Regions from separate parts of the Homo sapiens genome. Here region 2 is linked to region 1. Evidence: fine-mapped expression QTL. A gene starts in region 1. The other region holds a variant in brackets. All regions are shown on one strand. Distances are from middle to middle.

The links. PIP is the estimated chance that this variant, and not a neighbour inherited with it, causes the effect. A credible set is the group of variants that fine-mapping cannot tell apart.
Region 2: its variant is the best candidate, but not a certain one, in a credible set for the expression of DDX3X in T cells (TOPMed, PIP 0.69).

What each region holds. Positions count from the first base shown.
Region 1 is chrX:41,332,361-41,335,244 of GRCh38, reverse strand. DDX3X (DEAD-box helicase 3 X-linked) reads right to left here and starts at 1,083. Exons shown (of 17, transcript NM_001356.5): 1 at 948-1,083. The coding sequence starts at 992. RefSeq lists an enhancer at 1,453-1,682 and a silencer at 1,773-2,262.
Region 2 is chrX:41,386,570-41,389,471 of GRCh38, reverse strand. No RefSeq gene overlaps it. Among named protein-coding and RNA genes, the nearest start is that of DDX3X, 54 kb to the right of the region's middle. The variant A/G (reference allele first, on the strand shown) is at 1,215.

The sequences.
Region 1 (2,884 bases):
CCCAGAAAAACAACGCGGGACTCCCGGCTAACATACCACACAGGGACAATCTGGGGCAAGCAAGGAGGAGAAAGGGCCTCGCTGGCTCCCTAACCTCCCCGCCACGTCCAACCTCTATCTCCAGGGCCCAGCGCGCAGCGGCCAATTCCTGCCTCCCCTCCCCGCCCCCACCCCTCCCCCACTCCTCCCCAATCTTCTGCGTCACAAAACTTTCCACTCCGGAAACGCAGCCTCCCCGGCTGCGGCGCAGGGCCCCCGGACCCTGCGGAACCTGGGCTGAAGCGAAAAAGCCAGCGGAAGGAACCCGGGAAAAAACAAGAAACCCATTCCATCCTCCTTTCCAGGCCTTCGCCCGCCCGAGACCCGCCGTCTCCCGGAGGTGAGCCACAGCGCCGCCCAGCACCACACAAAAGAGGCCGCCGCCATTACCCCGAGCGAAGGCCGCCCCCTCCCACATTCCTGGGCCGCGTTCTACCCCTTGCTCGCAGGCACGCAAACACCGGGTGCCGCCAGGTCCTCCGGACGGGAATCCAGGCTGCGCCAGCCGTGAAGGCCGAAGCCCTCCAAGCCAAAAGGGCCTCCAGTCGCGTCCCGCCGCGCTGCGCACTCCCGCAAACCCCCCCAGGTCACTAATCAGTCGGGATTCGCGCATGCGCGTCCCCGCGAGAGCGCGCGCACTTCCTCCCCCTCCGCCCGCCTGCGCACGCACACACAAAAGCCGCCATTGTGCTCGTCCCGGGGACAATACAGCGGGCCGAGACCGGGCCCGGGCGACAGCCCCAACCAACATTCCTATCCCTCTATAGCCCCGGGGCACTCACACCCGCCAGCCCGGGGCACCCAGAAAATGAAAAGTAAGGGTGCCGGTTAGCGCTGCGCCATTAGCCAGGTTAGGTCAGGGGAGGAATTCACGCAGCAGCCAGCCCGGTGGGGTTCTTGCGGCTCACCTGCTGGTCCAGCCCGAGCGCATTTTCCACTGCCACATGACTCATCCCTGAAGAGTACCGAGAACTCGGAGTCTTCCGCTGCTAAGCGAGTGTTTGTTCCACCGCGAAGGCCCTCTCACGGGAGAACTGCGGCTCTGGAGCGCACCGCGCGGCCACGGATCTAATATACCCGCTGGAAAGCCGGCTACGTCAGCACGTACAACGTGTGCCCTCCCTCTCACACCGCAATTCCCTGTCGCGGCGACTTCTGCCCGGCTACTGCGCGCTCCCTCAGGTCTAAGCTCAAGGGATTTCCTACTTAGTCCTGTCGCCCCTAGCAGTCCTGCCTTGGAGCTTAGGGTGCGAAATGCTGTCCCAGTTCTCTCGAGCTACACTTCCCGTGCTCTCCGCTAAAACCCTAGTCTCAGCCTCGGAGTTCTCGAGATCTCGCGAGAACTTGCGTCTCCCGCTTTCCACCGGCTAAGACGCCTGAAAATGTTAACCTAGGCCTCTTCGCCCCCCTTTCCAACCTTACGCATTCGCTCCCCTTTCCAACTCTATGCACTCAGCTTTCGTTTTTCGTTTTTTTTGTTTTTGTTTTTTTTTTCCTAACACTGGCCTTCACTCTTCTTCCTCTCTCAGTTCCCGGGCTTGGAGATGTGGTGGGATTTCTCCGGTCTAATCTGCCCTCGCTCTTCCGCGGGTAGCCTCCCCTTAGTGGGAGCTAGGCAGATTCCCGAAACTGAGAGGGCGGCAGGCCACGTGACCGTAGGTGTCGCGTGCGGTGGCCATTTTGTGAAGCAGGAAACGGTGGCTTGAATATAGAGTGCTCCGGACGGGGGAGGGGAGGGGAAGAGGAGGAGAGAACAGAGGGAAGGGGAGGAGAGGGAGGGAAAAGAGGGGAGCGGAGTAAGGGGAAAGGAGGAGGGAGGAGGGTAGGATGGTGACCGGGGCGGGAGTCGGGGGGAAATGGAGGGGAGCCGGCGGCGCGCGCAGGTGGCCGGACACCTTCCTGCGCGGTTGCCTAGGCAGCGGGGGCGCCGCCTAGAAACACACAATGGCCCCTCCTGGCCAACCCCCCGACGTGTGCGCGCGCGCCTCCGCCCCCGCCCCCCGCGGTGAGGGAACAATGAGACAGACACGCGCTGATCCGGAACCGCCGCTGGCGCGCCCTCCCGGGACCCCGGCTCTCCGCAGGAATGCGGGCTACATTTGCCCCTAGTTTCCTCCCGCGGGGCGCCCAGCGGCTTAGGGCCGGTGACCACCGGCGTTGCGGGGACCCCGCGGGTGGCGAACGGCTCTTCTAGGGCCCAAGGGTGTCGGGAATGTTTGTAGCCGGTGCAACCTGGGCCTGCCGGAGGGGCTGCAGCGGGGTTACCGGCCTGGGCTCGGGGTGACTCTCAGGCCGCTGCGGTGGATGAGGAACAGGAGGAACCGGGTTTCTACCGTCGGTGGAACCTCTTCCTGTGGTTCCCTCCTAGGCAGGCCACCCCAAGTCCCGGCTTCGGTGCCGCAGGCCCTTAAATAGAAGAAGGTGTTTACTAGTGGATTCCCGGCTTTGAGCCGGCGCCCGCACATCCGTAGTTTCTTATGACCGCTTTCCCCTCTCTTCTGACCCTCAGCCCTACGAAATTAAATAAAACGCAGTGGTTTCCACCACCCCCACAAAAGGTCTTCTGCTGCCAGAATTCAAATAGTTCGTGCTCATCACATAATTTACTATACACATAACTTCTCTCCCTTCTCAATTTTTAAAATCGAGACGGAAATTCGAACGAGATAGGGAGAGAATATCACACTGTCGGGGGCAAGTTGTTTAACGGCTTTGGGTCTCAATTTGCTCATCTATAAAAGGAGTCTGCTACATTCCATAACCCTGTGAAAGACCCAACTCCTTTTCATAACGAGTATTTTCTAACGCCCCCTTTACCTATACTGAAATAACAAAACCTAAATTG
Region 2 (2,902 bases), 54 kb before region 1:
ACAAGTCCTGGGAACCGGAAGGGACGACTTTTGGGCTTTCAGTTTCTGCAGGTCATATCCTCCTACTAAAAGGCAACAAGTCTCACGGCTTGACTGAGGTTGGCATAGGGGTATCTTCTTTCTCTCATGGAAGAGACATTGTGATCTGAGATCTTTAGGATTTATATTTAATTTGCTCAAGAACTTTGGAAAAACCTTCCCTGCTCCCAAGCAGATGGCTACAGGCTGCCCAGGGAAAAGGTCGTCTGTATGGAAATACAAGAGAGGAAAGCACATTTGCATTCTTCTTAGTGTTTCTGCTGTTCCACATGGATTTTCTCGGTTACTGTCAGGACAACCTAGGAGGTAGTCACTACTGTTCTTTAATTTTTACAACTGGGAAGATTAAAGCACAGAAAGATCACATAGCCCATGCCTGTAGTGCCAGCTACTCAGGAGGCTGAGGTGGGAGGATGGCTTGAGCCCCGGAGGTGGAGATAGCAGTGACCCGAAATTGCGCCACTGCACTCCAGCCTGGGTAATAGAGCAAGATCTAGTCACAAAAAATAAAATAAAAAATAAAATAAAATAAAGGAAAAGAAAAGAAAAAGAAAAAAGAAATTGAAGATAACATCTTGATATATGTCCCTGAGTTGTTTTTCGGAACCTCGGGCCCCCATCACAAGGATCAGCTGGCATGTAAACCTCAGATAACGGGGAACTGAAGGTTGAACTCTGACCTCTGCTCTAAATTTCTTTTTGAGGGGCCCAGAGGAGGTCATGTCCACAAGCAAGAGTGAACATTCCTTTCTGTTGATCTCAAAGTTTTAGACAAAGCTTCACCTCCTTAACTAATCGTTAATCAGAAAATCTCTGAATCCTGGCTGGGCCCGGTGGCTCACGCCTATAATCCTAGCACTTTGGGAGGCCGAGGCGGGCAGATCACTTGAGGTCAGGAGTTCGAGACCAGCCTGGCCAACATGGTGAAACCTCCGTCTCTACTAAAAATACAAAAATTAGACAGGCATGATGGCGCGGACCTGTAATCCCAGCTGCTCGGGAGGTTGAGGCACGAGAATCACTTGAACCCGGGAGGCGGAGGTTGCAGTGAGCCGAGAACGTGCCACTGCACTCTAGCCTGGGCAACAGACGGAGACTCTGTATCAAAAAAAAAAAAAAAAAAAAAAAAAAGAAAATCTCTGAATCCACCTACGACCTGTGCCCCCACCCCCACA[A/G]TCCCGGGACTTGAGGATGTCCTGCCTTGATTTATGACTTTGCCTGTAACCTCTACCTCTTTGCCTTTAAAAACCCTTACCTGTAAGTCATCATGGAGTTCCAGTCTCAAGCATTAGCTGGCCAATTCTCCTGGCTTGGTGTCCTGCAATAAATGTCTCACTTTCGCTGCTATCCCGATGTCAGTGTTTGGCTTTGCTGCTCCAGGCAAGTGGGCCCTAGTTTGGTTCACTAATGTGACCATGTAATCTGGTGCCAGTTTCCTCTTTAGACTGTAAATTGGATCTTCTCTCTCCAGTTCCCTGTCAAGGCTTTGGCCTAGACCCTCATCATTTCATTTCTGGATTCCTGCCCCAGTTTCTCAATCAGCCTTTTATTGCTAGTCATTGCTTCTGAGACATTTTTCCATAAATGCCAGGCTATTCCTTCTCAAACTCTACTTTCTTCATGTCGTCGCAATGGCCTTTGGCTCCATATCCCCTGCCGCAATGCTCCTGGATTTTTGTTTTTTATTTTTTATTTATCTTTTTAGTTTTTTGAGACGGAGTCTAGCTCTGTCTCCCAGGCTGGAGTGCAATGGCACCGTCTCGGCTCACTGCAACCTCCACCTCCCGGGTTCAAGTGATTCTCCTGCCTCAGCCTCCCAAGTAGCTGGGATTATAGGTGTGAGCCACTGTGCCCGGCCTATTCTGGACATTTTATATAAATGGAATCATACAATATATAATATGTGACCTTTGTATCCATAAACTTAACTAACAGGTCTTCAAGTTTCGCCAGTGTTATGGCATGTATCAATACTTCATTCCTTTTCACTGATGAATCATATTCTACTGTTTGGATATACCACATTTTGTTTATCCATTTGTCACTTGATGGTGTCAACCTAAAAGGAAGAAGCTGGGGCAAAATGAATATACGTAGAGAGTTTATTTGGGCCAAGCTTTAAAATTGTTATCTGAGAGCACAGATTCAGGTTGCCCTGAACATAACATTCTGCCTAGCAGCAGTTACAAGTGGATTTTTTTTTTTTTTTTGGAGACCAAGTTTTGCTCTGTTGCCCAGGCTGGAGTGCAGTGGCGTGATCTCAGCTCACTGCAACCTCCACCTCCCTCCCAGGTTCAAGAGATTCTCCTGACTCAGCCTCCTGAGTAGCTGCGATTACAGGCACACGCCACCATGCCCAGCTAACTTTTGTTTGTTTGTTTGTTTTTAACTTTTGTATTTTGAGTAGAGACGGGGTTTTGCCATGTTTGGCCAGGTTAGTCTGGAAGTCCTGGCCTCAAGTGATCCACCTGCCTAGGCTTCCCAAACTGCTGGGATTACATGCGTGAGCCACCGTGCCAGGCCTACAAGTGGATTTTTAAAGTAAAAATTTGTCTTTATATCACAAATCCCAGGTACATGAAGATAATAGGTGAGCCAGCTAGTCAGGAACAAAGTGACTTTAAACAATTGTCCCCAGGCATGCGGTGGGGGCTGGGGAGATGATGACTGAAGTCCCTATTCATGTCTCTCTGGGCCTGCTCTGAGCTATTTTTCTTTTCTCAGTAGACAATTGGGTTGTTTCCAATTTGGGGCTATTATGAATAATGCTGCTGTGAACACTCGTGTAGGAGTTTTATGCGTACATACGTCTCATTTCTCTTGGGTAGATACCTAGCGTGAAAGAAAAATGGAACTCCAACTC